Homo sapiens: one gene and its partners. The protein of the gene in region 1 purifies or fractionates together with the protein of each later gene. This does not show direct contact. Each region holds a gene or a part of one and is shown in the gene's direction. Other genes may lie near its edges. The genes, in order: ZNF428, MACROH2A1, CIAO2A and PIP4K2A.

Region 1 (7,898 bases):
GCTGCAAGGAACCAGCAAAGACATTTACCAGAGTCTGGGATGGTGGGCTTCTCCCCCCACCACTAACACCTCAGACGCTTGGGCAGGGATGGGGGTGTTGGATGCCTGGATCTCTGTAAGGGCCAGAAGTGAGGGCCCAGAGGTCTGGGTCCCCCAGGGGGCAGGGGCCAAAGGTCCAGACCCCCCAAGTCCAGTGAGGGCAGTAGGGATTGGGTTGGGGGAAGATAACTGGGGGAAGGCCAGGGCCCCTAGGCTACAAAACCAGGTCTTGTGGGGAGGGGGTCAGTTTCTGGGAAGGGTGGGGGGGGCAGGGAAGGGGAACACAGATTTCTTTGGGGGTCCTAGACCCCATGCCAGCCATTGTAAGAGTTCCACAGAGCTCTGGGCACTTCTTTGCAAAGCCATGTTTGCACGGTGGGGGGATGGGTGGGGGGAGGGCGTGGAAATAGGGATTCTGTGTCTTTGTGTCATAACTTTGATGGGGGCAGTGAGGGAGACAGCCCCAACCCTTTTCTCCAATCCCCCTTCCCCAGGTTCCTGGGCTCCCCTTCTCTCTACCTTCTCCCCCAACGTCTGTCCCATCCATATTTGTCTCTCTGTCCACCCACTCCTGGGGGGGCCTTCCCCATCTCTCCTCCAGGCCCCCCGGGGAGGGGGAAAGGAGTTTGGGGAGGATTCGTGGTCTTCATGGTTTTATATATAATATATTAAAAAATCAAAAGTCTGTATGAAAATATCAGATTGCACCCCCCTCTCCCCATTCCTGGCTTTTGCCCCCTTTTTCTTGTTAAAAAACAAAAAACAAAAAACAAAAAACCACACACACATTTTGTACGGGGTGGGGAGGGGAATGGGGAGGGGGTTTGGCAATCTCACTAACCACCATTAAACTGAGGAGAGAACAAGTGTTTGGGGTGGCTGTGTGTCTGTCCTGCTGTCAAGGGCTGTACCATTGGGAGGGGAACTAAGGGAGAGGGGAGGGAGGAGTGTGATGGTTGCTGGTGGACAGTATAGGCCAGGAGAAGGTCCTGACCTCACTGAGGGTACCTCGACCTCCCCAGAAACCTGGGTTTGGCCATTTCTTCAGCCAAATAGTCACAGTCTTGTCTTTTTGATAGCGACTGAGCTACCCCATTCCATGGCCCGGACCCTTACCCTGGCTTCCCCCTACCCCAGACATTAGTCTCCAAGGGAACTTTGAATTAAAGTTAAACTCTCAAAACCTTTGCCTAGCTCCCCATCACCTTTAGACCAAGTCAAAGCTCTTTAGTCTGGCATCCCAGGCCTCTCATTCATTCATGTACATTTTAGATGTATTATTCTAACTTTAAAAAATAACCTCTTACGATGTGCCAGGTGCTGCTCAAAGTTCTAGAGTCCATGGTGAATAAAACAGGCAAATGTTAAGTGTTAAAGACAGCGCTACACTAATCTGAAATCTGATCCTGCTCTAAGCATTGAGAACCCAAAGTGAAAAAGGGCGACTCCATTCTTACCCTCATGAAGCTTTCATGAGGAAAACACTCAAAACAAGGAAGCAAAGAAAGTTCAGATTGTGATAAGAACTATTAATATAAATGCAGAGTATGGTGATGTGGTATGCCATTGTCATTATGGAAAACTTCAAACCCACAGGAGTAGACAGGACAATAACGTCCCATGTACTCTTTTTTTTGAGACCAAGTCTCGCTCTGTCGCCCAGGCTGGAGTGCAGTAGCGCCATCTCGGATCACTGCAAGCTCCGCCTCCCGTGTTCACGCCATTCTCCTGCCTCAGCCTCCCGAGTAGCTGGGACTACAGGCGCCTGCCACCACGCCCGGCTAATTTTTTTTTTTTTTTTTTTGTATTTTTAGTAGAAATGGTCTAGGATGGCCAGGATGGTCTCGATCTTCTGACGTGATCCGCCCGCCTCGGCCTCCCAAAGTGCTGGGATTACAGGCGAGACCCAGAGTCTCGCTGGGTGGCCCAGGCTGGAGTGCAGTGGCTCAATCTCGACTCAATGCAACCTCTGCCTCCAGGGTTCAAGTGATCTTCGTGCCTCAGCCTCCCAAGTAGCAAGGATTACAGGCACCCCCCATAACCCCTGGCTAATTTTTGTAGTTTTAATAGAGGCAGGGTTTCACCATGTTGCCCAGGCTGGTCTCAAGCTCCTGACCTCAGGTGATACACCAGCCTCGGCCTCCCAAAGTGCTGGGATTACGGGCGTGAGCCACCGCGCCCAGCCCCATGTACTCTTCATGCCAGTTACAACCACCACCAACTCATGGCCAATCCCGATTTATCCATAACTCCAGTCAAATGTGTAAGTGCTATTATGGAGAGATCAGGAAAAGCCTCTCAGATTGACATCTGTACCAAGATATGAATGGTGAGCACAAGAGTAGGTATTCAAAGGTCAGAGGGAAAAGCATTTTCAGGCGGAGGGAACGGCAAGAGCAGAGGCCCGAGCTGGTAAAGAGTTTGGGGTAAGGTGGAGCTGGACAGAAATGGAGGGAGGAGGAAGTAGGTGGGGTCAGAAAGATAAGCACGGCCAGACCAGGTGTATAGCCCTGAGGCCATGATAAAGATTTTTGGATTTTTTTTTTTTCCTAATGGGATCCCTTTGGGGGAGTTTTAAGCCAGAATGTGACAAAGTCACTTACAGGAAGACTGGAATGTAGCCATAGTTGAACTCTAACATCGTCTATAGAACCATTTCCCGTCTCCAGTTAGGTTCTAGGCATACTAAGCTGCTCTTGCTTCCTCAATCAAAACATGCGCTTCTATTTTTTTTTTTTTTTTTTTGGCCTCTGGGCCTTGGCGCTTGCAGTTCATTCTGCCAGACCCATTCCCATTCTAGTTGGCTCCTATTCGTACTTGGCTTAAGGATCACCACCTCCTGGAAGTCTTTCTAGAACCAGAGGCCGGGGCAAGCGCCTCTTAGGCTCCCACAGCCCCCTGTGTTCCTCACTCCAGGTCTGACCTTCTGGGTAGTAGTTGTCTAATTAGGTGCGTATCTCCTTCGACTGGGGTGCCGTGAGTACAGGAGTATGGTTCACTGCAGAAACCACAGAATCCGCCAGCATGGGGCCTGACACCTAGGAGATCAATAAACCTTTATCCTGGTTGGGAGGGGTCCTGGCCCTCGTGCCCTCTCTCAGGATGCAAACTGATCCCCTACGAAGACAAGGCTACCCACTTCGCGTCAGTCTGCAGTCCCTGCGCGCATGCGCTTTGCTCAGGTTGCCCCCGCCATATGCTAATCACTGCGCTCTGGAGTAAGGCCCCTCCGGGGAATATGCAAATCACTCCTTCCAGTGCGGGAGGCCTTTCATTGTCCCGCGCTAGGATTATGCAAATAAGCAGGCCTCGGGCCCAGGATCCAGTCCGAACTAGCGCCCTCCACCCCCAGCGCATCCCAGTTTTGTAAGGCGCGTTCCTGCCCCGCACACGCACGCGCGAACCCTTCAGCTTCTTGTTCCTTTGGGCCGCGGGCTGTACCAAGTAAACCCAGGCAGCGAGGGGCAAAGCACGGCGCCCCCCGCGCGGGTCTCGTCGACGGCCCGACGCGCATAGCCCCTCTTCCCACAGCGCTACAGGACTAGTCCGTCTCGCCGCGCAAGCGCCCTAGGCTCTTCACGCCCCCTGCGCGCTGTCCTACCCTACTTGCGACGCAGGCGCAGAGGCTGGGCGTGCAGCCGCCGCCGCAGAGCCGGAGCGGGGGCCGCCGGCGCCGGTGAGTGTCCCGGGCAGGGGTGCGCGAGGCATGCCGGGAAGCGGGCGCTACGGCCCCGCTGCATGATGGGAGCGACGACTCCCGTCACCGGGGAGCCGGCGGTCTGGGGCCGTGGTGACCCGAGGGCTTCTTTTTCTCCCCCTACGCGTTTGTGCCGCCCTGGGGCATCCTGGGAGAACCGAGCGCTCCGCCTTGAAGCGCTGTGGGAGTCGGTCCGCTAGTCGTAGGCCTGGTGCATCCTGGGAAAGAGTGTCCCAGATCCTTGTCGAGACCGGTTCCTTTTATCCCACACCTGCCGCTGACCGTCCTGGAGGCTTGGAGCGCTTCCACACGGGGAGTCTGGGAAGGTGGTCGCTATAGGCCTAAGGCATCCTGGGAAGAACTGCCACAACGAATTGTGGGAACTGGCCGTTATTGTCCCGTAGTGGAAGGTTTTGCCCTGGTCTCTTTGCTCGAGCATTGGAACGGGTGCCTATTGTGTTCACGCGGGGCATCTTGGGAATTGACTGCTATAGGCCCAGGGCATTGTGGGGTCTCCAGCACTGTGTTTGCCTTTCAGTTTGGCTGCCATAGGCGTGGTAGGAGTGGGACTTGTGAACCAAGGGATGGCCCTACCTGACGTCTGGAATACTCTGGAAGGGGCCTTGTGTGACGTGGGCTTGGAAAAGTGTAGGCTGATGGGCATTGTCTCCTGGTAACTTCAGGGAATGTCTTGATTGTCCCAGGTGTGTGGTTGCCGTATAAAATATACAATGTCTAGTTAAATTTGAATTTCAGATAAACAATTATATCCAAAAGATACAACCTTTTAGAAAAGTATGTCCCAAATATCACATGGAACATAGCTATATTAATTCTTTGGGCTAGTTGCAGTGATACCAATACTTTGGGAGGCTAAGGCAGGAGGATCGCTTGAGACCAGGAGTTCAAGACCAGCCTGGGCAATATAGTGAGACCCCCGTCTCTACAAAAAAAAAAAAAAAAAAAAAAAGTAAAAATTAAGCCTGGCATGGTGGCGCATACCTGTAGTCCCAGCTGCTCTCCTAGGGGCTAGTAGGGTACCTTGAGCACAGGAGTTTGAGGTTACAGTGAGCTAACCTCCCAACCTGGTTATGGGGGAGTACATGAGTTAAGGCCTGGAAGCCCCTTTCCTACAGATCACCCTACTGCACTCCAGCCTGGGCAACTGAGCGAGACCCTGTCTCTTAAAAAATATAAATAAGTAGGCTGGGCGCGGTGGCTCACGCCTGTAATCCCAGCACTTTGGGAGGCCGAGGCGGGTGGATCACGAGGTCAGGAGATCGAGATCATCCTGGCTAACACGGTGAAACCCCATCTCTACTAAAAATACAAAAAATAGTCGGGCGTGGTGGCAGGCGCCTGTAGTCCCAGCTACTCGGAAGGCTGAGGCAGGAGAATGGCGTGAACCCAGGAGGCGGAGCTTGCAGTGAGCCGAGATCGTGCCACTGCACTCCAGCCTGGGCGACAGAGCAAGACTCCGTCTCAAAAAAAAAAAAAAAAAAAAAAAAAAAGCCGGGCATGGTGGCACGCGCCTGTAGTCCCAGCTACTTGGGAGGCTGGGGCAGGATAATCGCTTGAACCCAGGAGGCAGAGGTTGCAGTGAGCCGAGATCGCGCTACTGCGCTCCAACCTGGGCGACAGAGTGACACTCCGTCCCAAAAAAGAAAATTAAATAAATAAATAAATAAGGGCCAGGTGTGGTAGCTCATGCCTGTAATCCCAGCACTTTGGGAAGTGGGAGGCCAAGGCAGGAGGATTGTTTGAGCCAGGAATTTGACAGCAGCCTTCGCAACATAGTGAGACACCATCTCCGCAACAAAAACCCAAAAACAAACAAAAAAATTAATTGGATGTCTTCTGTTTTTATTTGCTAAATCTGGCAATCTTATCTTGGTATAAAGTAGAATTCCCAAATTAGATGGGGCCCTGTAGGCAATAGGGTATCATTAGAATTCTCCTCTGCCAATTATGAAATCTGTCTTTAAAAGCCAAGATTTAGGTGCTTTCTTTAGGAAGTTGCCCTGCCAATGATGCCAATGGTCCTTTGCCCCAGCCACCTCCAGGTTTCAATCTGAAGCTTTTCTCTTTAGTCCCCAGCATTAAACTTGACATCCAGACTTTGAAGGGACCATGTATTTTCCACCATTGTATCCCCAGTGCATGGGCCTTGGCATGTAAGAGATATAGCTGAGGCTGCATCAACTGGCCCTGCTTGGTTCTCTACTGTCAGGGAGTACAGTGGAAGACAGTAGTGGTGTGTGTGTGTGGTGGGGTTGGTGGGGGGCGGGGGCGGTCCGTTGGTGAAGAGGGAGAGAGAGAAGTCACAGAAGGCTTCCTGGCAGAGGCAGTATTTCAGCGGGCAAGAAGTATAGAGGTTCTTATGTTTGTGGTGGGCTTTGAAGGGTGAAAAGGAGTTCTCCAGGCCAAAAAGGGGGAAGGAGGGCTGGGCGTGGTGGCTCTTGCCTGTAATCCCAGCACTCTGGGAGGCCAAGGTAAATGGATCACCTGAGGTCAGGAGTTTGAGACCAGCCTGGCTGACATAATGAAACCCTGTCTCTACTAAAAATACCAAAAAATTAGCCGGGCATGGTGGTGGTGGCTGCCTGTAATCCCAGCTACTAGGGAGGCTGATGCAGGGTAGAGGTTGCAGTGAGCTGAGATCGCGCTACTGTACTCCAGCCTGGGCAACAAAGTGAGACTCCATCTCAAAAAAAAAAAAAAAAAGGAGGAGGAGGACATTCTTGACAGCAACAGTGGGTGTACTAAGACCCACAGATGTGAAAAGGCCTTGTGTGCACAGGGAGAGATGAGAGGTCTGGAACATCTGGAGTTTATAGAGGGGCAGGGGTGGGAGTAGTAATGGCCACTCTTGATGGAATACCAGCCACACACCAGCAATTTCTATCAGTGAGCCTACTGAATCTTCAGAAAAACCTTTTGAGCTGAGAAATCATTTTATGAAAGGTCTGGCTTCCAATCCTAGTTCATCCACTTACCAGATGGTGACCTTGGGCTACTCACTTATCACCTCTGTGTCTGTTTCCTCATCTGTACAAAGGAGATAATTCCCAGTCTAGTTATGGGGAGTACGTGAGTTAAGGCCTGGAAGCCCCTTTCTTCCAGAGAAGGAAACAGGCTAGAGAAGTTAAGTTCTTTGCTTGGTGCTACACAGCTAGAGTGTGGCAAACCTAGACACTATCTTGCCAATTGATACAGAACTAAGGCTGATAATCACAAACTAGTATAGCCATACCAATTGTTTAAATATTAAAATACTTCCAGATGGGTTGGTGTGTCACTGCTACACAAGTACTCCCTGTCCCTAACTGCCACTTTGGACCCCCCTTGTGGTATTATATATATAAATATATTGGTTTTCATCCACAGTTCCTGGCTGGTAACTCCTACAGCCTTTGTTACAGTCTCTTGTTATAATGTTGTGTACCTTAGGCCTGGGGCAGGTCTGAAGAAACAGAATCTCTCTGACCTCCTCCTGCCCTCCATTTCCTGCCCCAGGGCAAGACTCTAATCTTCCCCACCTTCTTGATTGTTGGTCTTAAGACACTTTTCAGAGAAGTCCATGCCCAATGCTGCTGTCTTAAAGCCTCCGTAAAAACCCAAGAGGACTGGGTTTGGAGAGCTTCCGCATAGCTAACCACCTGAGGGTTCCTGTAGGGTAGCACCCCAGGGAGGGCGTGAAGCTCCCTGCCCCTTCCCTTATACCTTGCCCTACACATCTCTTCATCTTTGTTCTTTGCAATATCCTCTATAATAAACCAGTAAATCTAAGTAAGCATTTCCTTGAGTTCTGTGAGCAGCTCCAGCAAAAATTTTTTTTTTGTAAGATGGGTCATCCAGGCTTGAGTGCAGTGGCAAGGTCACGGCTCACTGCAGCCTTGACCTTCCAGGCTCAATTTATCCTCCTGCCTCAGCCTCTCAGGTAGCTGGGACTATAAGCACATGCCACCACACCGGCTAACTTTTGTAATTTTTTTTTTTTTTTTAGAGACAAGTTTGCCATGTTGCCTAGGCTGGTGTCAAACTCCTGAGCTCAGGTGATCTGCCCACCTCGGCCTCCCAAAGTGCTGGGATTACAGGCATGGGTCACTGCGCCCGGCCTTATTTTTATTTTTTTAAAAAAGTCGGGTGTGGTGGCTCACGC
Region 2 (8,169 bases), on another chromosome or scaffold:
TGCTTGAAAGGTTCTTTTAGACAAGATGTTAGGGGAAATGTTTCTGAGTTTCAAAGTGAGAGACTTCTGTACAAACAACTGGGACAAACCTTGAATTCAACAATTACAATGACTATAAAGGCCTTGTAAGATTTTAATGACCCAGTAAACAGCACATAAGAATAGACAATTAGAGGGGGCACTCCTGCTAGCTTCCCTCTTTTCTTCCACCTTTGTGGTTTGAGGTTTTACCGTTAAAGTAGGGGGTAAGGGAAGTGTTTTGTTCCAAAGCTCCCTGCTCCAGGGAGTCGGGCATTTTTTAACAGTCTTAGGTTTGAATGGGAGACTCGAGTTGTAAATTAGGTGGAATTCACCTACTGCAGGCCACCTTTAGGCTACTAGCCTGTTGTCAGAGGTGTTAACTCTGAAATGGACACCTCTTGCCTGCAACTGGAATTAATACCCATTGTACACATTTAACTAGAGTTGGGCAGCAGCATCTCAGTCTTGCACAAGAGACTCTCTGATGAGGATGAGTATGTTTTCAAACTTATTTTTTCTTAAACACAACAAAACTCTTGAAAGACTTCAAATTCTTCCCCCTTCTAGTTTTACAAGGAGAGAGAAATCTTTCCAGTCTGTTCTTTGGCTTCGATCTGTCACCATTGTTAATGCTGATCCCTAGATAAGGCATTAAGAGGGTTGTCTAAATGAAAATTGTTTGAGGCAGGCCTTTAGAAGGAGGCATAATTTAACTCACATTTTATTAAACTTTAAGAATTGTCTGGAACTTCACATGTGACATTCTAGTATACAACCATGCCACTGGTTTAGTTTTTACCAAATGGGCCAGTGTCAGGGAGTGACACATCTCCATCTGATGTTTCTTCTGGTCCCTGAGAGAGGCGAACTTGAGGAGCGCCTCGCATTCCTTCCCCACTGAGAAGCTCAGAGGGCATGTGTTCTGGGACCTGCCTTCAGAGCTAATGCGGCCCCAAGTCACCTAAAGGAGATTTATTTAAATAAAAGCATAAACTGAAAACCTCAAGCCGAAGAACCCAACAAGACTCTATATGTGTTGTTCATCAGAACTGCAACAGCCTCTGGTTTTATTTGAGTGTCCCCAAGGATTTGTGACAGCCTTTTCAGAGCCCCATTCCTAGAACATGGGCTGGGAAGGGGCAGGAGTGATTGGGGCCCAGATCTCTGTGGGTCCTTCCCATATTCTGTAGGTTTAGAGGTCTTTTGGGCCCTGCCTCAGTGCTTACAAGTGAGCCTGAGTGAGTCAACTCTTCATTCCAAAGAGTTGTATAGCTTGTTTGCTTGGACCAAACCTGTCAGGTCAGTGTCTCAGAGTCTTTCCATAAAGATTTCCTGAGAATCAGCTCCTGTTCAGGCACTGGGGACACAGCCGTGATTAAGAAATGCCTAGCCCCTACCTTGGGGGAGCTGACTTTGGGAGAAGGCAGGCAAGTAGCTGTTGTAAAATCAGTGCAAAAGGCCCCACGTAGCCCCCCAGCAGGTACAGTAACCTAGCCAGGAGTGAGCCCTTATCTGGCTTGGAAAGGTCAAGCAGGAGATGGCTGGGCAAAGGAGGGCAGATGGGGACAAGTGTTTGAGGCCTGGGGAACCCCATGTGTGCATCTTAGAAGAAAAGAACAGAGGTCATGTGGGGAACTGCCAGAGGCTCGGGATGGCTGAGTCCTGGTGCGGAGTCAGGTGAGGCTTCAGGGAGGGACAAACAGGACAAATCACAAAGGATTCTGGTCAGACCCACACTTTATCCTAAGAGCAACTGAAGGGTTTTGAGCAGGAGAGAGACAGGATCAGGTGTTCTTTTTATTCTTATTGGGAACACGTCTACTCGGCAAATAATGAGTGGATTCTACATGCTAAGCCTTATCAGAGTCCTGTCCTGTGAAGCCCACACTTTAACTTTTCTCTAAATAGCCTTCCGTGAGACTGGTTATCTTAAGAGTTTGGCACAACCTTTAAAAGAGAGAGGAGTATGTAGAAAAGTTTTTTTGTAAAGCAGGCAGGCAGTAACTTGCTGTTAAAATGTAGCAAGCTGCACAGTTCCTTCAGTGCATCTCGGGAAGCGCATCACCGAATGGGTTTGCAGAGGTGAAATTTCAATCCCAGACTAGCTTCCCCAAAACTGTTTCTTGCTTGTGGTAAATGACATTTGTGTTTGTGTTTTGTTTCTTCCTGCCACTGAAAACATAACAGGAGTAAGACACATCTGCTGGAACAAAATGCATGGTTTATGATTTATTTACTATCTCAGTTGGTCTGTCTCTTCTGTTTGCAGTCCCCTAGTTCACTGAGAGTGGACTGTAGGTTCTTTAATCATCTGGCTCACTTTTTGATATGGTGTTTTATGAATGGAGAGAGATATTTTTCCTGATTGGCTAGAATACTAGAACAGGTCTCTGATCCAAGCCAATCAGAGTGCAGCTTGTGAACCCCAGCTCTGTGAGCAATGGTTGTCTAGTATATCCACATGCCTCTGGGGACATGACAGCGGGTGACACCGTTAATCATTTGGTGTGATAGGAGTAAACGGAAGAGGGAAGAGAATGCTGTAAACAGGATTAGTGTCTTGTCCTTCAGAATTAAGTTTCTCAGGTTGGCCTTTGTGATTGGAGTTGATGGGAAGGTGACAAATGCATGTGGATATGCGGGCATTTATCCAGCTGCCAGAATGGATGGCGTGGTTCTTCCTCATCAGCAGTTATTTGAGCACTGATAGCTCAGACTCCTCTATCCTCAGGGGCTGGAGATAGGGCTCTTTGACTAGCAACTCCCCAGCAGTTCTAATCAATATTGCATGGGATCAATAGGCATGTATTCATTGCTTAGATAATAAAATACTTCATGATTGACTATTCCAGCGGTTTCATGAGTGCCCTGATTGTTTAAGGGGTTTCTGTGCTGTAGCTTAAACAGGAGTCAATCTCTTATAGATGTGAGGAAGGTTAAGTATTTTCCTGCAGTCTATGGTACTGAGCCAGAGGCAGGAGGAGAGGTCACTGGAACCATAGAACTGTCACAGAGTCATAAGGCCTCAGTGTGCCTTATGCCCAGCTATCAGGGCAATTGGAGTGTTCCTTTCCTGAGAATCCCCAAGGTAGCTCTACAAGCTCCCTGAATTTTGAGTGTCTGGGCTCCTATAGGGATTTTGCCAGGTGTATGTACATGAATGTCCAAGAGAAGGTCTCTGATTGGTGTCCCACTAGCCATAGCTCCCAGTCCTGTGGGCTTTGGAAATGCTGCCCTCTCCTTTCTCCCTATCCACTGTCAGTGCCAACTAATCAGCTACCTTGTAGCTGGCATGTGCATGTCTACCGGGTGCCAGGCAGGGTGGTGGGTGCTTGGAGATACAGTGGTGAGTAGAGCAAATTGGTTCGTTTCATCAAGACAGACAGGTAAATAGGCAATGATGATACCATGCACTGAGTGCTAAGAATGGGATAGCTGGTTTCAGAACTTATATGTAAATGGGATCTAGAGTGACTGGCAATCATGATGGAAGGAAGGGCTGGAAACTGCATTTGCAGAGTACTGTATATAAGACTAAGAAAAATAATTGAGTATATTAAAGAATAGGGGCAGCCTGAGGGAGATTGTGAGGCACTTTTAGCTGGGCCCTGGGTCTGCAGCTGCCACATCCATTGAGGGAACTGGGAGGGAGAAATTCATCCCGGTGGATCTCTGGTTGTTGCAAATAGAGAGATGTGTTGGAGGTCAACAGGGCCTGTGCACAAGGTTGGAGTCTGGACATGCAGCTGCCCCAAACTAGACTGTGACTGACAGAAGGCATGGCCATGGCAGGAATGCAGAAGAGGGAGCACATTGATGGATCATTGCCAGGGAAGGTATTGGGACCAGTAGGCAGGATTACTCCAGACAAAGGGCTAGAGAGATGTTCAGACTGAGCATGCTGGGTGTGCTGAAGGTGCCAGTGGGAATGAAGGTGGTTTGCAGTGCAGGGAGCAGCCTGTTAGGATGCCTGCTGGGAAGGGATAGGAGGGTGTGGCAGGGCCTCCATGGCACTTTGGTTCTTTGCCCCTACTGCCCCTCCTAGTAGTACACAGCTTGTTGTTCTCATGTCCACCTTATTCATGGGGTCTACATAGCCAGCCTTCTAATTAGTCCTGTGCTAAAAGAACTGACTGCGTTGCTCCAGTCGCATCTCGATTGCTGAGGGGCCTGTGGTCAGACTCTGTTGCTTCTCACTGTAGCCTGACTCATCTCTCCATCCAGCTCCTCTATAAAAGTTTGTCTTTGGGTAAGCTTTGAGGTTTTATAAACAAAGTTAATGTTTATTGTGATTTATAATTGGAAGAGTTGCAGAAATAAAGACCACAGAGATCCCTTCAAGATCAATCACAGAACCTTCATTTTCTAGGCCAATAACAGCCAAAAGGGCAGTCAAGCTAATGTGCAATGATGAACAGACACAGTTGCCTGAGGACCTATCATTGTTTTCAAAGCATGCAGAGCCATGAGTGAAGCCTCCTGGTTTACTGAAGGAAGGAAGAACACATCTTTGTCAAGTTTGACCAGATAGTATAGCTGTTCTCCTGTGACCAGCTTCACTGCCCTGCAGAGGTGATGAGTGCTTAGGAAGCTGCTTTGTCTATGATGTAGGGCTGTCTGTTTCTCAAACAAGGCTGGATGCAGAACATGGGTCAAACAGGGCCCAACAGGTTTTGGGTGGTAACTCATTCTGGGGTTAGGGTCAGCGTTCAGATTGGTTTATCATGTGACAGAGACTGGCTGTTTCCTCTTTTCTTCTGAGTAAATAGCCAGAGTACATTTCCCAACCTCTCTTGCAATTAGTTGTGGGCATGTGACTAAGTTCTAGTTGATGGATCATGGTCAGAAGTGATGTGCCCCATTTGCAGGCCTGGCCCCTTAAAACCCTCATAGGTTATTATCCATGGTCTTTTTCTTTCCATGGCAACCCTGGGAATCATGTATTGAAGATGTGAGAGTAACAAGATGGGAGGCATCTGGATCCATGAATCACTATGTGGACAAGAAACACCAGCCAATCATGGAAACCCATTTTGGATTTTTCGGGAGTGAGAAATAAGTTGTAGAGACTTATCTGTTACAGCAGCTAGCAATGTCTTCAGCGCAAATGTCCAAGATCTGTTCTGCAAGAAGATGGCCTTTTTTCATCTTATTCACATTATTGTTTTTGTTAACTACTGAGAACTTGCCCAGTGAGTGAGTATCAGGCCCTTACATGGATGCTTTGATTCACTTCTGCCACCAACTCTTTGAGGCCCTTACTAGCATCATCTCCACTTGAAAGATAAGAAAATAGGTTCAGAGGGGTTAAATCACTTGCTCAAAAATGCACAGCCAGTAAGCGGCAGAGCCATGGTTATAATCAGGTCAGTCTGGCTTTGGACTTCTAGTTTTTAATTATAATGCTTAATTGCCATTGGCCTCACAGTCACTCTCCCCCTTGTCATGGGTGCCTGACTGGAGCTACCCACACCTGCATAAACCTCTGAAGAGCAGGATGGACCTGGCACATTCATGGGTTTATCTGGAGACTGCACAACTATGAGTTGGTTTTCAAAAGGGTGTTTTGAAAACCACCACACATTGCTGGATGTCATAAGGCTTCATGGCTTAGTCAGAATTCTTTCATAGCTGTGGCTGCAGCTTGGGGAACTATAGTTAGAAGTGCAGGAAGAACATGGGGAGGGATAAAGTACAGAATCTCTGCAAGACAACCCCATTGGTGGGGAGACAGACTTGAGGCCGCTTTATTGGACAGGAGCCTGACTCAGAATGAGAAGTGAAGATGTTCTTCTGCCAGCAGGGTGGCACTGGAGGAGCTGTGATATTTCAGACCTTTCTTGGGATGAGTTGACTACAGTGCTTCACATCGAATGGCTTGCAGTTCAGTCAAGTTGGAGAGGCATGTGCTGGGATATATATACTATGGGAACATGGAGCAGTGAGCAATTCCAGGCTGTGGTCATGTCCACAAAGCCTCCATGGCAGAGGGAGGCTGTGAGTGTCAGTTCAGCAAGTTGACAAGAGGACAAAGGGCATTCCAGGCAGGAGAACTGCGTGTTCAGAGACATCCTTAACACAGTGTGACAGGCTCAAGAAGTCAGGGGTGGCCTGAGGCATGTGAGCCAGGGCTGGGGTGACAGGAAGCAGTGCCACCAAAAGTAGCTGAAGTATGCTGTTTGTGGCTAGCTCAGAAGCTCAGGCTGACAGGGAATCATCAGAGTAGGCAGAGCTGCTTCTGGTGTCCATGGATGAAGACTGGTGCGGTTGAGAATAGGTCAGAAGTAAAGAGGCTGAACCAACGCAGGGAGGGTGATGAGAAGAGGCCTGAGAGGTTCTGCAGGCGGTTCAGCAGAGCTTGGCTAATGCTTGGGTGCTGTGGGGTGGACAGAGAAGTCTGGGCCAGGTTCACTGCTGTTTGGCTAGTTTGGTGCATGACATTGCCACTGATGAGGCTGAGAGACCCAGAGGAGTTCAAGGCACCCATGGGACTTGTAAGTGGGCCCTTGCCATCAGCAGTCAGAACAGAGCTCTGAGGCTCAGCGGCCAGGTGTTGCACTGGCATAGAGACCTGGGAGTCACTGGCATGTTGATGTAAAGACTCAGCTAGAGTCAGAGGAGGGAAAGACAAGGAGCACCACTTTTAAGGAGTCAGCGTGTCTAGGACCTGCCAGGTCTCTGAGTGCTAACGGATCCTTTCTGGAGGAGACCACTGTCCAGTTCCCACATAGGCAGCCCCAGACATGCCCAGCAGGTCAGCTGGGAAACAAAGCTGAAGTCTGTGCTCTAGTAGGAAAAGGGCTGAGCTGCTGTTAATCATCACTGACCACAGGCCTCCCCTGCTGAAAGGGGGAGACATTCCGATTTAAAAGCTCAGTCCAAAGGCATCAGGTTGTTGGTCTGTGAAACACATTTGTAGTAAAGCAAAAGACTGCTAGGAAACCCAATGACAGCCTTGCCTGAAAACACAGGCACACATACATATACACATATCATTTCCTGCTCAGAGTGAGCACAGGCACCTTTTTGCAAGGAATGTTTTAAAATGGAGTTCATTGCAGCAAGGAAGGGATCCAACTAATTGTTTTGGAAAAACCCAGACCCTTCTGGGTCTCTCTAGCCCTCAGTGAGCAGTTAAGACTGGGTGCTCCTTGACAGGGCGCTCATGACAGAGGCCTTTACTCTTCTAACATCACTCCAGAGCCAGGGCCTCTGCCATCTTACCTCTGTTGGGCCTGTCTACACAGTAGCCCCAGAGTGCCCAGAATTCTGTTTTCTGTCCTCACAGCCATCTCTGTGGCTCATCCCAGATGATTTGAGATGCACCTGGGATTAGAGAGGTGTTAAGTGTGGACCGTGGCATGTCCTGACAATGTCCCTAGTATAGGTTGAGCATCAGAGTAACAGGGACTCCTATCCCTGTGGCCTCCAGTGGTCACAGCATTGACTGCTGGTGCTGGAAGGCCCCAAACACCATGGAGTGTGACGTCAGTTTATCAGTACATGGGAGACCTGCCCAGTTGGTTCAGTGAGCAAACATGTTCATAGGGAAGACTTTAGGGGGCCCCAGAACAGGCCAAGGCCCCTCATATCCCCTCTCCCAGCACCCTGCACTGGCCCTTTGAAGCATGCATTACGTTTATCTTTTAAATGACTAGGGGGTTATTTATTGTCTTTTTCCCCACCAGTTCCACAGGGACCACATCTGCCCAGCATAATACCTGAAGTGAATGCATAAATGAACAGGATGCTCCAAGTAAACATTCGAGACCTTGGATGGTGCTACAGTAGGAATACAGTTAGGGGCACCCCTCCACCCACCTGCAGTCTGATGGGAGAATGGGCACACGTGCATCAATGCTGTGGTGTGCAGCACATGGGGCCCTGAGGATGAAACAGCCAGATCTCAACATTTGGGAGGGCTGGCAGAAGGCAGAGGCAAGTGTGAGAGATAATGGAGGTCCCAGCCAAAGGGAACAGCTACTGCCCAGGCAGGGAGAAAAGAAGTGGAAGGGTATTTGGGGGGAACCTTGTGTGGCTCCCTGTTTGCTAGTTTAGACCACAGGTGGCCCAAGGCAAAGCTGGACATGTGTGCCAGGCCTAGATTTCTAGGGCATTACATGGCAGGCCAAGAGTCCTGGTTCTATC
Region 3 (7,056 bases), on another chromosome or scaffold:
GCTAATTTTATTTTTTGTAGTGACAGAGTCTCACTATGTTGCCCAAGCTGTTCGTGAACTCCTGGGCTCAAGCAGTCCTCCCGCCTTGGTTTCCCAAAGTGTTTCGGATTACAGGCGTGAGCCACTGCACCCAGCCCCGTGGCTCTTTCTTTGTCTTCTGATGTAGAGAGTGTCCTTTTCTAACTTGTGTTCTGTTTGTTTTTCATCTTCCCTCCTGGACTGTCAACTTCTCTCTCTTTTCTTTTTTTTTTTTTTTTGTTTGCGATGGAATCTCGCTCTGTCGCCCAGGCTGGAGGGCAGTGGTGCGATCTCGGCCCAGTGCAGCCTCTGACTCCTGGGTTCAAGCGATTATCCTGCCTCAGCCTCCCAAATAGCTGGGATTACAGGCGCATACCACCACACCCAGCTAAATTTTTGTATTTTTAGTAGAGACAGGGTTTTGCCATGTTGGCCAGTTTGGTCTTGAACTCCTGACTTCAGGTGATACACCCGCCTTAGCCTCCCAAAGTGCTGGGATCACAGGCATGAGCCACCATGCCTGACCAGCTAGCTGTCAGCTTCTTGAAGTCAAGATTCATATATGATACATCTCTGTGTTCCTGCTATGATCTTATACATATTTGGAGCTCAATAAATACGTCTTAAATTGAGTAAATTAATAAATTATTATACTAGTGGTTTATGATGCCCTGTAAATTTTATTTTTCATTTTTAACTGTTTTAATTACAATGTTTAACTTTTTATTTGAAATGAAAATAATGAAAGAAAAGAAATAAAATAGTGAAGAATAGTACAAAGAAATTCCATATATCCTTCACCCAGATTCAGATTCACTAATTGTTAACATTTTGCCACATTTGGTTTATCATTAATTTCTCTCTATATATGTACACACACATACACATATTTTCTGGAAATGTTTGAGTGCATTTGTAATGCCCCCTTACTCTAAATACTATAGGATGTATTTCCTGAAAACAAGGACATTCTCTTACATTACCACAGTATAAATTTCTAAACCAGGACATTGATACAGTACTGTCATCTCATCTACAGCACGTATTCCAATGGGTAACATCCTTCATGGCGGTCCCTCCTCCTGGCTCTGCTCCTCTCCCCCATCATACATTGCATTAGTTGCCATGTCTCTTTAGTCTCATTTAATTTAGAGTAGTTCCTTAGCCTTTATTTCATGATCTTGATATTTTTGAAGAATGTAAACCAGATATTTTATAGATTGTCCCTCAAATTGAGTTTTCTGATGTTTCCTGGTTAGATTCAGTTTGTGCATTTTTGGCAAGAATACTGAATAAATGTGTTCTCATTGCATCACATCAGAGGCCTATAAATTCAGTTTGTCCCATTATTGGTAACAGCTCCCCTCATCAATTGGTTACCCTGAAGTATAGTTCATATAGGAATAGCTGCATAAATGCTGCCTTTTCCCCTTTATCACTTTTAGAATAATGAGTCCTGTGTAATTTTAAACTGAAGTAAGTCAGTATAGAGTGATTCTATACCTGTTGCTTTGAGGTCTAGAATAAGAGTGTTTTGCTACTAGGAGAAAGGTGTTTTGTTTTGTTTTGTTTTGTTTTGTTGAGACGGAGTCTCGCTCTGTCACCCAGGCTGGAGTGCAGTGGCGCAGTCTCAGCTCACTGTAACCTCCACCTCCCGGGTTCAAGGGATTCTCCTGCCTCAGCCTCCTGAGTAGCTGGTAATACACGCCCGGCTAATTTTTTGTATTTTTAGTAGAGTTGGGGTTTTACTGTGTTAGCCAGGATGGTCTCGATCTCCTGACCTCGTGATCCGCCTGCCTCGGCCTCCCAAATTGCTGGGATTACAGGCATGAGCCACCACGCCCGGCTTGTTTTGTTTTTTAAAAAAAATTGGGGCCAGGTGCAGTGGCTCACGCCTATAATCTCTGTACTTTGGGAGGCCTAGATGGGCGGATCACTTAACCTCAGGAATTCAAGACCAGCTTGGGCAATATGGCGATACGCGGTCTCTACAAAAAAATAGAGACGAGGGAGGAGAGGGGTGGGAGTGTGGGAGCTGAGGTGGGAGGATCACCTGAGCCCAGGAAGTCGAGGCTGTAGTGAGACATGATCGCGCCACTGCACTCCAGCCTAGGCGACAGAGTAAGACCTGTCTCAAAAAAAAAAAAAAAAAAAAGATTGGACTAGATGACCTTTAAGGTCCCTTTTAACTATAATAAGTTATGATTTTTCTCACTCATGAGAAATGTTTATCTCCGTAGTAAATAAGTAAATAAAAATTAGTTCATATGTTCCAGTGTTCTCTGGAAAGTAGACGTCTTTATTACAGCATACTCTCTTTACCACAGGATTTGCAATAATTTTGTAGGTTGTCTTAAAAGCTCTGGGTCTTGGAGGGTAGCTCATGTCTATAGGTGCAGCAGGGCCAGGAGGGATAGCTTAACCAGTATTATACTTGAGAATAAATTTAGCATGATAATAATGAATGAGAAAAGAAGGATGCTGAAAACTATATTGTGATCCCATTTTTGTAAAACAAGCAATGTGAAGAAACTTCCAACCCTGATATGTGGGTGTGTGTGTGTGTAAAATCTGTGTAAGATTATGTGGGTAAAGAGAAGAATATGGAAGAAACCACACTAGATTGTTATTGTAGATTTCCTGAGTCAGTAGCAGGGCAGGAGGAAGTTTAGATACCGAGTTGGGAAGAAGTAGAGTGCAGAAAAGAGATATTCTTAAGTAAAACCACACATATGAGATCTCATTTGTGTAAAATGATATTTTTGTGTATTCATAAAAAAATTAATGGAAATACCACCTGCAGGCCTTTTCCAGGTGAACAAAATAAAAAATCCTACTCATTTCAGTCCTTTTTTTTTTTAGAGAAGGATGTGGGGGATTTGTCCCTATGTCTCTGATGTTAGAAACAGGATTTGGGGGGCGCTGGGCGCAGTGGCTCACGCCTGTAATCCCAACACTTTGGGAAGCCGAGGCGGATCACCTGAGGTCAGGAGTTTGAGACCAGTCTGGCCAACATGGCGAAACCCCATCTCTACTAAAAAAAAAAAATAATAATACAAAACTTAGCTGGGTGTGGTGGCGTCTGCCTGTAATTCCAGCTATTGGGAGGCTGAGGTAGGAGAATTGCTTGAACCCAGGAGGCGGAGGTTGCAGTGAGCCGAGATCATGCCACTGCACTCCAGCCTGGGCAACAGGGTGAGACTCCATCTCAAAAAAAAAAAAAAAGAAACAGGATTTGGGCACTCATCCCTAGATGTTTGAATTTACTGTACATTCCACTTCACTCTCTTATCTTAGAATGCATTAATGTTTTTTCTTTTACTTTTTTTCCCACTTTCCAGTTGGAAATCTACATTTCTGAAGGAACCCACTCAACAGAAGAAGACAGTAAGTGAATGTTGAAACATAATTGAAAAACAACTTCAGATAGTATTTTATCTTGGATACTGGATTCTTCTGCCAGCCAAGAATCTACTGGGTTACTTTCAAAAAAGTGCACAATTGGTTATTGGCTCTTCCTTCCTAGGTGAGGAAACCTAGGCATTTCAAAGAAGTAATTTTTGCAGTGGACTCCGAGTGCACTAGAGCCCACGGATGTTGACTGGTTTAGGCCAGTGGCTACACATCTGTAAAGAATATCCAGTGCTGGGGACCTTGACTTATGAGCTCTAAGTAGGCTTCTTTTCTTTGGTGACAGGATAGAGAGCTGTGTACTTGAAATTGAAGGTCTAGCAAGTAGAGCTTTAGTGAATCTTGGGGTAGGTGCTGTCTCTCTGGGTTAGTATATTAGAATGGGAGTGGGGAACCTTTTTTATATAGAGGACCTCTGGCCTACAGAGAGAAATCAATCAGTAGCTACTTAAAAATAGCAGAAGTGGGGTTTGGGAAAAGCAAAAAACAAAATGTTCTGTATGATCCCTGTGTTACATTAAAAACATAATTTTAATGTTTTTAATCTACAAATGATAGAGTGCAAATAATGAGAAATACATTTAAAAGGCATGTTGTACTTAAGTTTCATCACTAAGTAAATTGAGAAGGTGGGAAAAAATAGCAGAGGAATGGAAGAAAGAGCTAATAGAGGAAGAGCAACAGTGAGATAGATACCAAGAAGACTCAGAAAGGCATACACAGGGCTGGAGAGAGACACACAAAATCTCCTACATAAAAGAGAGCTATAGAGAGGGAAGCCTGCTGCTTCCAGAGGAACAGCCTATCCAGGAAACTTTTTAGGTACTGTCATGAAAACTGTTAAAAACCATGCCCTATTTATAGTTCTAGACATGTAGATTATTATACTCTTTGTGGGCTGAATTTCTTTAAACCCCACGAGCTGAGGGCTTCTACCTGTAATTTAGAAAAATAAGAGTTTAGGTACCCTAAATCCACTCAGGTTATCGTTTTGAAATTCCTTGAATGATAGGATTTTACAGCAGCAATAGTATTAAGTCTTATGAGTCTTGTTTTTCATTTAGTAAGTATTTATTAAGTGCCTTCTATGTGTGGGTACAGTTCAGCCTTTGAGATACATTCCTGCCTTTGTGGAGCCTACATTGTAGTAGGAAGAAACCAAATTGAAAGTATTTTCGCAGGAATATGTGTATGTTTGTGTGTCTTCTACATGAGACATTTCAGCGGCAGCCCAGAAAACTCAATCCACATTAAGAATATAGTCGTCTCTCTTTTGAACTCTTCTATTAAGAATGCTGTTAGCTAATTACAGAAAACATAATGGGCCAATACCTTTATTATATGAAGATCCATTCAAACTAATTTTAAAAAAAGATCTAGTAGATTAATAGAGACATGAACAGGAAATTCATGCAAGAAGAACTAATATATGCACATGGAAAATGTTCTATTTTCCTATTAGTCAAGGAAATGCAAATTATGACAATAATATTGAGCCGTTTTCCATCTCCTGTTTTATGTATGTATATATGTGTATTTGTTTTTATTAAATAATACCAGCTATTGCCCGGGCATGGTGGTTCACACCTGTAACCCTAGCACTTTGGGAGGCCAAGGCGAGAGAATGCCTTGAGGGAAGGAGTTTGAGGCCAGGATTTCAAGACTAGCCTGGGCAACATGGTGAGACCCTGTCTCTACGAAAATATTTGAAAATTAGCCAGGTGTGGTGGTTCATGCCTGTGGGAGGCTGAGGTAGGAGGATCTCTTGAGCCCAGGAGTTGGAGGTTACAGTGAGCTATGATTGCACCACTGCACTCCAGCCTGGATGACAGAGCAGGACCCTGTCTCAAAGAATAATAATAACAATGATAATAATACCAGGTATTGTTGCCAAACTGATAGCTCATGTATTGGTGTTGACAATATAAACTGGTGAGTAATTTTAGGAAGTAAATCAATGATATGAATCACACCATAAAAATATTCATACTCTTAAAAATAATCCCATTTTTGAGAATATTTCCAAAAAGAAGGCTATATGTTTAAAGGTATTCATTGTAGCATAGTCTTCATAATTACTTTAGAACACTTAAGACTTTTACCATGTTAAATAACCCTGTAGTTTAAAATATAGGCTTATGGGGGAAAAAATAGCAATTTTCAAAATTATATTTACTCTGAATGTAACTGTATAAAAATATGTGTATGGACAAAGACTGGAAAGAAAAAAATAGATGTGGTTAAGTAGTAGAATTCTAGTAGATATTTTTCTCTTAAGTCTGCCTTCTAGATGGGAAATTACATTATGAGTAATTAGCCAAAAACAGGTTTAAGTTCTCAAGGAGTTAAAGTTTTTGTTTCAGCAGGCTAATAAAAATACTGTCTGGTGCTGTATATTGACACAGTTCTTCTGCTAACTTTTGTCTGTGTATTTTTCAGTCAATAAGCAGATAAATGACAAAGAGCGAGTGGCAGCTGCAATGGAAAACCCCAACTTACGGGAAATTGTGGAACAGTGTGTCCTTGAACCTGACTGATAGCTGTTTTAAGAGCCACTGGCCTGTAATTGTTTGATATATTTGTTTAAACTCTTTGTATAATGTCAGAGACTCATGTTTAATACATAGGTGATTTGTACCTCAGAGTATTTTTTAAAGGATTCTTTCCAAGCGAGATTTAATTATAAGGTAGTACCTAATTTGTTCAATGTATAACATTCTCAGGATTTGTAACACTTAAATGATCAGACAGAATAATATTTTCTAGTTATTATGTGCAAGATGAGTTGCTATTTTTCTGATGCTCATTCTGATACAACTATTTTTCGTGTCAAATATCTACTGTGCCCAAATGTACTCAATTTAAATCATTACTCTGTAAAATAAATAAGCAGATGATTCTTATAATGACTCACTGTTTTTATTGAATTGTAAATTCCAGTGTAAATGTCAACTCCTAAAGGATATCTTCAAAGCTTTATTTTTGCTGATTATTTTGTAGAATCAGAGATCTGAGAACCAAAAGGAACCCTTAAGATTGGGCCTTCCTTCCTTCCAAGGAGAGTCCTGGACCCTTTCATAGATAAGGAACAAATGTGGAGAAGGCTAGATGGCATACACAATTTTGAAGATCAAGAAGTCCACCAAAGAAGTTTTGATTAAACCAACCTAAATGTATGGTCCGCACTTTATCTGTCCTTCATTTGGTTTGTTTTAGGGGTTAATGGTCATGTGAAGTATAGTAGCCTCCAACATGGCCCCCAAGATCCTCACTTCCTGGTATTCATGCCCTTGTATAGTTAACTTCCATATTGAATTGGAGCTGATGGGTGTGGCTAATAAAGAATGGCAGAGTGACAATGGGTGACTTCTGAGGCTAGATCATAAAAGGTATTGCTGTTTTCACCTTAGGCTCTTGGATTGCTTATTCTGTAGGAATCCAGCTGCTATGTCACGAGAACTCAAGCCACCCTGTGGAGAATTCCACACGGAGTGCAGCTGAGGCCTCCCAACAACAACCAGCAGCAATTTGCAAACCATGTGAGTGAACTCCTGATGCAGAACTGCCTAGCTCCCAAAGTCTGGACCCAGGCACTGTCTTGGGTGCCAAGGACACAAAGATACATCA
Region 4 (8,169 bases), on another chromosome or scaffold:
AGTGCGGCTGGCCAGTCCCAGTTGTCCCCTTCCCTCTCTGCCCTTTGGCAAGTTAATCACAGACAGCCCTGACTTCTGTAACTAAAACATACTTGAAGGTCAACCAGTAGACCTTCCTGTTAAGGTAATCGTCTTAAATGGTCACCTTGCGCTTCCTTTGCAGAGCTGTTGCCTCATGCAGTCTCAGACAAAAGTTTTCTGTTGTTGCTTTGTTGTTTGTATTTGGCTTTGGTAGTTACTTCCTGCTGGAAGCAGGTTGGGGAGAATTAGGGAGAGTTGGGACGGATAGGGAAGAAGTAACAAGCATCCCATTCACTTGTCCAACAAGTGCCGAATACTTTCCCGAGCCCTCTGCCTGCCGGGATTCGGGAATGCAGTGAAAGCCAAAACCTTAGAGCCCCGTTTGGGGCTGCCTTGCTTGGGAAAGAGAGAAGTCGCTCAAATACTCCAACAAAATGAATGTGCAGCGAGGCCCCGTGTCACTGGGGAGGAGTGTGCGGTGCCCTAAACACCCAGACTCTGGGGCTGTGCTGCCCTGTGCAGTGCCCCGCAGCTGAGACCTGAAGGCACAGGAGGAAGTACCTGCCCCCAGAGAAGCCCAGGAAGTGGGCAGAGCAGAGCTCAAGTGGGCCCCAGAAGTGGATGGGGCCAAGCTCTCCAGGCCTCCTGGGCCATGTGAGTTTTGTTTGTGCCCTGTGAGAAACGCGGCACTATGGAAATGTGTTAAGCAGAACAGGATGGGATCAGGTTCACATTTTGAAAACTTCTGCCCTTTGCAGAGGACTGGAGGGGTGGTTGAGGCACCACTCAGCCTTTACCACTTCACAGGGACCTTCCAAGCACCCAGAGGGAGCAGGTGTGGGCAGAAGGGGGGCCTTTTCCCTGTCACCTCTCAAGCCGAGCAGGGCCTGGCCTGGCTCCAGAGAGGCTTCCAGGTGTAGAGAGAGAGGCCAGGGAAGCCGTAGATCTAGGGAGCAGAGCCAGGCACCGTGCTAGGCTTGGGAGGGGCAGCAGAGGTGGCCAAGGAGACCCTGACCCAGTCCTCCAGCAGCCCAGAGGCCTTGGAACAACAGGGCAGGGAGAAGTGGGCCCACCATAAGCACCCCCACCCCCACCATACCCCTCAAGCATTGGAGAAGACAACTGGGTACTTACAATGCAGTATTTTTCAAATAGGCTTCTGAAACCCCAGGCCCACAGGTCATTCTGACGGGAAAGCAGGTTCCATGATCACAGCAGTGCCATGTGTGCTGCTGCTGGCCACCTAACCCTCCGGAGACCCACAGCGCAGAGTCATGTGTGGAGGGCCTCCGATGCCAGCTGATTTTAACTCGTTACCTTCCTCCTAGGGTTGCGAAGAAAAGGAGAGGGGAAAGCTGCTTTAAGGCAGCCTCCAGAGGTAGCTGATAGAGAGCAGAGAGTACAGGCTCAGAACAGGCCCTGAATTCACCCCTCCTTGGATCTGAATCCTTGCACTCTCGTCCAGCTGCTGAGCCTGGCTGCTGTCTCACACGGAGAGCCTGCCCCCTGCCTTGGATCTTGTCACCTGTCCCTATACCCCGGAGTGCCCAGTTCTCTTCCACATCCACAGGCCCATGTATAGCGGAGCTGGTACCCGAGACCCAGCTCCCTGGCTGGCTTCACCGTGCGGGTGGAGGACTCAAGTGAGCCTTCCACCACTGTAGATTTCTCCCCGCAGCCGCCCCCACAAACATGATCCCAGCCAGGTGATCTCGGCCAGGTGCACCTCACAGCCTGGCAGCTGCCGAGATTCTAGGGGAGGATGCGCAGTCTCTGACTGCTGGAAAGGAATCTGGCAGAGAGAGGTGCAAGTGGAAAGTCAGTTCTCATGTTTACTGTAATGGGGGAGTTTGGGGAAAGACCAGGGGGGATGAGCAGTGGCTTCCCCTCTTCTCTGGGACCCAGAAAGCTGAACGCAGGAGCCCCATGCTGTTTCCACGAGGGGTTTGCCTCTATTTTTAAACAAACAGGTTTCTCCCACTTTGCTTAAATATTTGAGTGTAAGATTTGTGTGATTTCTCTTTTTTGAGCTCAAAACAATTGGGGAAGATATAGCTGGCCCTGGGGGATTCCTGTTGGGAAGGCAGCGAAGTGGGAGCTCTGGCCAGTTTGCTGGGCTGAGCGGGGTGCTGGCTGATGGAGAATTGCAGGCACCAGGAACCAGCTGGAGAGTGGGATAGCCCTGTGCCCAGGGGTCCTCTCCTCGTCTGTAAGGAATCGGGGCTTCTCATTCAGTTTCGAGACAGAACTCCTTCCCAGCAGGCTGAGGAGAAATGACTCTGCGGGGCTTAGCAAATTGATTTCATTTTTAGCCAGAACTTCAAGACCTGTGATTTTATCTGTTTGCCCTTTGCATGAGGACATCTGCTTCCTAAATTCTATCAGCATAGCCCAGAGGCTGCTCAGCCACTCTGCATTCCCCAGCGAGGTGGCACTGAGTCCTTCCAGAGCCAGGACCGTGAACCTTCCTGGACCCTGAGCCCAAGGTCGGAGTGGAACAGGATCCTGTGCAGAGCCAGCCAGCCACGGGGTCAGGGAGCCAGTTGGGTCCAGCCCGCAGATGGGCTGCCACTGTTTGCACTCAGCACAACCATCCACATCTTATGGCAACATTGGAACGTTGTGCTGAAGGTCTCAAATAAGAAAAGGGAAACAAAGAGAAATCGTGATCTGAAAAGTCAAAGAACTGGGCAGACAGGAGTAGCCAAACACACAGAGCTGGGTCTTGCCCCCACATTATGTTCTAGCCACGGCTGGAGGAGGAGAGGGAGGACAGGAATCCTGGATGTGTGGTGCTTCGTGGAAAGCACACGTGGAAAGCACCTTGTTGACCTGGACAGGACTGCATTACTCACCAGATGTGGACACAGTGCCTTTACTTTTACTTATTTACAACAGCGTAACAATCGCCTCCACAGAGCATGCTGAATTCCAGGGTGCTTTCCTGAACTACCACCAGAGACTCCGCTGGAAGCTACTTGGGAGATGCCTGGGTTTCCCCATTAGCCAGTCTTAATCATTGGGAGGAACTTGCTCTCTCTCCCAGTCTCTCTCCGCATCTCTTACTGGTCATGCTCCTTGCTATCTGGTGAAATCCAGCCACCCTGTGATAGATACACACCTCTCCGCATCCAGTGTGGCATTCCAGGGTAAACAGCCTGAGCTCTGAGCCAGCCTGAAGTGTGAGGCTACATTTTAGATAGAGAAACAGCCCAGGAGTGTAAGAGCATCGTGAAGGAGGCACCCGGCGCCTCTGCTGCCCCACCCCACAGCCTTCCCTCTGGGTGTCACCCGAGCTTGTCTCCTTTAAATGTTGGCTTTTATGTTTAAGGTGTGGCTGACTCACCCTGTTGCCTCTGTCCCCAGTTTCTGGCCCAGCTGAAGCTCATGGACTACAGTCTGCTGGTGGGAATTCATGATGTGGAGAGAGCCGAACAGGAGGAAGTGGAGTGTGAGGAGAACGATGGGGAGGAGGAGGGCGAGAGCGATGGCACCCACCCGGTGGGAACCCCCCCAGATAGCCCCGGGAATACACTGAACAGCTCACCACCCCTGGCTCCCGGGGAGTTCGATCCGAACATCGACGTCTATGGAATTAAGTGCCATGAAAGTAAGTTTGATTACTGTGGACCCTTTTTGCATGTGAAGTGGTTTGACTTTGGCCTTGTTATCTACCAGTAAGCACTACCCCAGTTATGAGGGTGCTGCCCGGCAGCACTCATCCTCCAAACTCCAAAGAAATGGATTTGGGGACAAGAGTATGTTAAAGCTAACCGTGATCTCAGTGCTGAAACATAAGGCGATCGGACCTTTGAATTCTGTGATGTTGAGGGAATACAGCAAAACCACGAACTATACTATACATGTACAACACACCTGTACATATGCACATACACACTGGCATACAACGTACGTGCACACACAACACAACATGCATGTACATATGCACACATACATGTTCACAAATAACATCAGAAATGCTTTAAAATATTAATACGTTTTTGCCTAGTTATCTTTTTTATCTAAGTCAAAAGCATCATGAGTCTAAGCTAGGCACATGCATGTGATCCTCTGTGACCCTTAGCTTGTCCTCTTGTCATTACCAACAGCCCTCTCCCTCTCAGGGGTGTGAAGGGTGTGTGAAGATGGGCCCTGTGGGTGGGGTGGGAATCTGATTTGCTGCTGAGTCTGGCTCTGCTGTCCTCCCCCATGGAAGGGCCTATGGCCCTCTTCCCTAGAGTCAGATAAATCTTAATCCACCGTATCCAGGTGATTGGGTGCACCAGTTATTTGAATATTACATCCTACCTTAGCAACTTATCCGTGACAATACCAAAATATTTTTGTGATAGGATAAAAACAGCTTCTTGGTTTTTGAATAATAAAAACTGTGGCTCATCAGTTGTTTTTTAATCTCAAATGGCATATCAGCTGAGGATCTGAGTTCTGTTTTGTTCTGTTTTGCTCACCAAAATGTTTTCTTCAACACAGAAAATTAGATAGTCAAATGTACTTTTCTTACTGTTCATATTTTTGGAAATGGATAGAAAACAGACACGGGCCGGGCGCAGTGGTTCATGCCTGTAATCCCAGCACTTTGGGAGGCCGCGGCAGGCAGATCACCTGAGGTCATGAGTTTGAGACCAGCCTGACCTACATGGAGAAACCCCATCTCTACTAAAAATATGAAATTAGCTGGGCATAGTGATGCATGCCTGTAATCCCGGCTACTCGGCAGGCTGAGGCAGGAGTCACTTGAACTCGGGAGGTGGAGGTTGCTGTGAGCCAAGATCGCACCATTGCACTCCAGCCTGGGCAACAAGAACAAAACTCTGTCTCAAAAAAAGAAAATAGACATTGGAGTGGATGTATGCCTTTATCCAGTTCTGATACTGTATCCAGTGAGAATTATGAACAGTTCTACCATTTGATGTAAAGGATTAGTGTACATAATTAGTTCTGTTTTATAGGGTATTTTTAAATAGCATATTTCTTCACACCAAAGCAATACACAATTATTAAAGAAAATGCAAATTAAAAAAAAAAAAAGACTCCGTTCCACCGTTGGATCTCCACTGTTGATACCCTGGTGTGATGATGTTTTTAGTTGTTAGGGTTGTTTCTTTTTAAATTGCAGGGGGACTGGGTCAGAGAGGCAAGCTGTGTGTTTAGTCAGGATCCGCAGGGGTGGTGTAGAGTTTGTCTCTGGACTCCTTCCATCCGCGTTCCATTGAATCCCCTCCCTCCAGGCTCACTTCTCCCTCCCTCCCTCCCTCAGCAGCAATGCTGGCACTGGTGTTGTCACATGTCCCACAGTCATTGCTCTCCTGTCTCTGCAGACTCGCCTAGGAAGGAGGTGTACTTCATGGCAATTATTGACATCCTTACTCATTATGATGCAAAAAAGAAAGCTGCCCATGCTGCAAAAACTGTTAAACATGGCGTGAGTATCTCCATTTTGTTTCCTTCTCTCTTTCTCTCCCTCTCTCTCTCTCTCTCTCCCTCTCTCTCTCTCTCTCTCTCTCTCCTGGCTCCTCTGTGTGACCTGTAACTCAGGGATCACTCCTTTCTGCCACTGAGCTGCTTTCTACTGAGCCATTCAAAGCCCTTTAGTGACGCTTGTTCCCTGGGGGCAAGTCATGTTCTGAGCGTAAGATACAGAACCCACAAACGCTTACTGCTCACTGCTGCTCTTACCACAGCTCCCTGTGGCTTCCAGCGAAGTCACTTAAACATGAACATCTCTTCTTTTTACACATGGCGGACACTAACAGGCATGCGCATCACTAGGATGTTACACAAATTCTTTTTTGTTTGAAAAATGTTCCAGAGATAAAAGTGCAAAAGAAGATAATGAAGTGTTCTAATATGAAATATTCAAAACTGAAGCATGATTGTCTGCTTAAGACACTTCCCAAGTATACAGGATTAATATTTCTTTTCTCACAGTGAGTTGTATTTTTTCTACTACAGAAATCTCTTGAGTGCAAAATCAAAGTTGCATAATATTACTCACCGTTAATGTTGCTTGATGGGAGTTTTCACTGCTCTAGCCATATGTTAAGCTATTTTATCCCCCATGAGAAGCCTATGAAAGAGATAGTAGTGTACCTGCTTTTGTCAGTTGGAGAAACTGAGGAAAATAGCTTCAGGAGTAACTTGCCAGGGCCTCATAGTAGCAAGTGGCAGAGATGAGATTCCTCCCCCGGACCCAGCCCCCTCCTGGCTCTGTGTTCATGCTCATCCCCTTGCCCTGCCTGCAAACACCTCCTGCCTGGCTGAACTTTACAGCTCGCCAAGTTTCAGGCTTGTATTGCAGGGTGCCATCTTTGTTTTGCAGAGGTCCTGAAAGCCATAGAGCCCACCCCACACAGATGAATGTATTCCCTGGTTTGTTGGCCCTGGAAGAAGAGGTGCTTCCCACAGACTGTGTAGAACTAATGAAGATTCACCAGAACCAAAAACTCACTTGAAACCTCTTCTTTTCTATTTTAAAATAGAAATCAGCCTAACAAACACAGTATTCTATTTGCCAAAGAAATATTTCAGTCACATTGTCGATAGCTATGGTATTCCTGCTGTGTGCAGAGCACAGACTGGGACCTCACCGCCCCCGAGCACGTCAGTAAGCAAGTGTGCCTGGTGGCTTCCCCCCAACAGAAATTTTTGAGTACTCTTTTTAAACAAACATCCGCACCAGGTGCACCACCCCCATTCCGTCATTTCTGAGGCCAGTTCAGGAGGGTGAGGGAGGGGTCTTCAGAAGACTCCATGGTCATTCTGATGCTCACCTCTGGTTGAAAACCATGGAGTGTGGCAAAGAGAGAACTGGCGAGGAATCCTCGTTTGACCCTTCCCACTTGTATGACCTCAAGGGGACACTTTTGGAGCTCCTGTTTTTTCACCTCATACAGAAATCCTACTGCCTTGCTGATGGGGTTTTGCCAGAGATACAAGAGTTGTCTGGACAAATGCTTTGTAAATGTCTGTTCCCATATTATACATCCTGTGAAATTGGAGTGTATCCTAGCCAATATGGCTCCATGTTCATCTCTCCTATCCTAGCCAATATGGCTCCATGTTCATCTCCCCATAAGCCACAAGTTCGCCTCCATAGTGTGCCACACGGCATAAAATCACAGGTAGTTTGCAAGAAGAAAACATTACTGTCAGCAAAGGAACGCTGTGTTAAGCTGCTGTGGGGGACCATTCTCTCTGCATTCAAGCCTGGGCTCCTCCATGCAGCCGAGGCCTGGAAATATTACAAGTTCCCCGGTGAACATGGGTGTCTAAAAACAGCACATGCTCACTTAGCAAAACTCCGTGCTTGCCCTTTGCAGCTCAGGAAACTGGCCAGTGAGTGACTCCCTTGAGTGTGCTGGCCTGCACCCTGCATCTCATCATGGAAAAATCCCTCACCGTGCTTCTGCAGGGGGCCAGGCTTGCTTGCTCTCTGCAGGGCTCAGAAAGGGGAACAGTGGCACCCCTGTGTGCTGCTGCAGAGGGAAGTCAGCTCCTTCCCCCGTGGGCAAGATGGAGCCAGCAGTGTTGTGCCTCACCTGGTTACGGTGCAGGGAATGGGCTGGGGGCAGCTGTCCCAGAACCTGTGGCTGCTGCTGTTGCCCCTCATGTTTGAGCACTGAGCTGGGGGCCTCTGTCCAGAAACGAAGGGGTCCTGAAGAAATCATGCGGTTTTAAGTCATCGTCATTAAGGTTTCCCTTTCGCCAAATGTTGATGTCATTCTCAAGGTGGCTCCAGTCTGCCTTCTTGAAAAGTATAACATAAGTATTGTTTCCGTGACTTCTGAACAATTCCACTCTTTGATAGTAACATCCCAAACGTGGCCTGTTTGATTTTTTTGTGAGTTGCAACAGCCCCGGTGTGTGTGGTAGCATCTGGTGCTCCTGTCGCCCTTTGTCTCATTTGCAGACACAGATTTGTAAGAACCTTGCTTATTCAACCATGAGCGCCAAGATATTTTGAGTGATGTTTTTCAGAGCAGAGACTGCATGGATTTGAAAATTGCTTGCTGTATATTCAGTTGCCATTGGAAATAGCTGTAGATATTGAGTAATAATTTGGGGAAATCATAAACACTATGTCAATATTTCCTTTTTTAAAAACTGCCCAGGCTGGCGCGGAGATCT

What was found.
Region 2: the proteins of ZNF428 (region 1) and MACROH2A1 purify together in Homo sapiens (affinity purification with mass spectrometry; one large-scale study listed by BioGRID and IntAct). This does not show direct contact.
Region 3: the proteins of ZNF428 (region 1) and CIAO2A purify together in Homo sapiens (co-immunoprecipitation; one large-scale study listed by IntAct). This does not show direct contact.
Region 4: the proteins of ZNF428 (region 1) and PIP4K2A purify together in Homo sapiens (affinity purification with mass spectrometry; 2 studies listed by BioGRID and IntAct, with this or other methods). This does not show direct contact.

The regions. Positions count from the first base shown.
Region 1 is NC_000019.10:43,615,375-43,623,272, reverse strand, and holds the start of ZNF428 (zinc finger protein 428), read left to right. Parts: upstream 1-3,643; 5' UTR 3,644-3,715; exon of another isoform or gene 3,716-4,212; intron 4,213-4,274; exon of another isoform or gene 4,275-4,440; intron 4,441-7,898.
Region 2 is NC_000005.10:135,389,989-135,398,157, reverse strand, and holds part of MACROH2A1 (core histone macro-H2A.1), read left to right. Parts: intron 1-8,169. UniProt on the Homo sapiens protein: Variant histone H2A which replaces conventional H2A in a subset of nucleosomes where it represses transcription. Nucleosomes wrap and compact DNA into chromatin, limiting DNA accessibility to the cellular machineries which require DNA as a template.
Region 3 is NC_000015.10:64,071,841-64,078,896, reverse strand, and holds the end of CIAO2A (cytosolic iron-sulfur assembly component 2A), read left to right. Parts: intron 1-3,359; coding exon 3,360-3,405; exon of another isoform or gene 3,406-5,868; coding exon 5,869-5,966; 3' UTR 5,967-6,332; downstream 6,333-7,056. UniProt on the Homo sapiens protein: Component of the cytosolic iron-sulfur protein assembly (CIA) complex, a multiprotein complex that mediates the incorporation of iron-sulfur cluster into extramitochondrial Fe/S proteins.
Region 4 is NC_000010.11:22,537,266-22,545,434, reverse strand, and holds part of PIP4K2A (phosphatidylinositol 5-phosphate 4-kinase type-2 alpha), read left to right. Parts: intron 1-3,387; coding exon 3,388-3,631; intron 3,632-5,360; coding exon 5,361-5,464; intron 5,465-8,153; coding exon 8,154-8,169. UniProt on the Homo sapiens protein: Catalyzes the phosphorylation of phosphatidylinositol 5-phosphate (PtdIns5P) on the fourth hydroxyl of the myo-inositol ring, to form phosphatidylinositol 4,5-bisphosphate (PtdIns(4,5)P2). Has both ATP- and GTP-dependent kinase activities.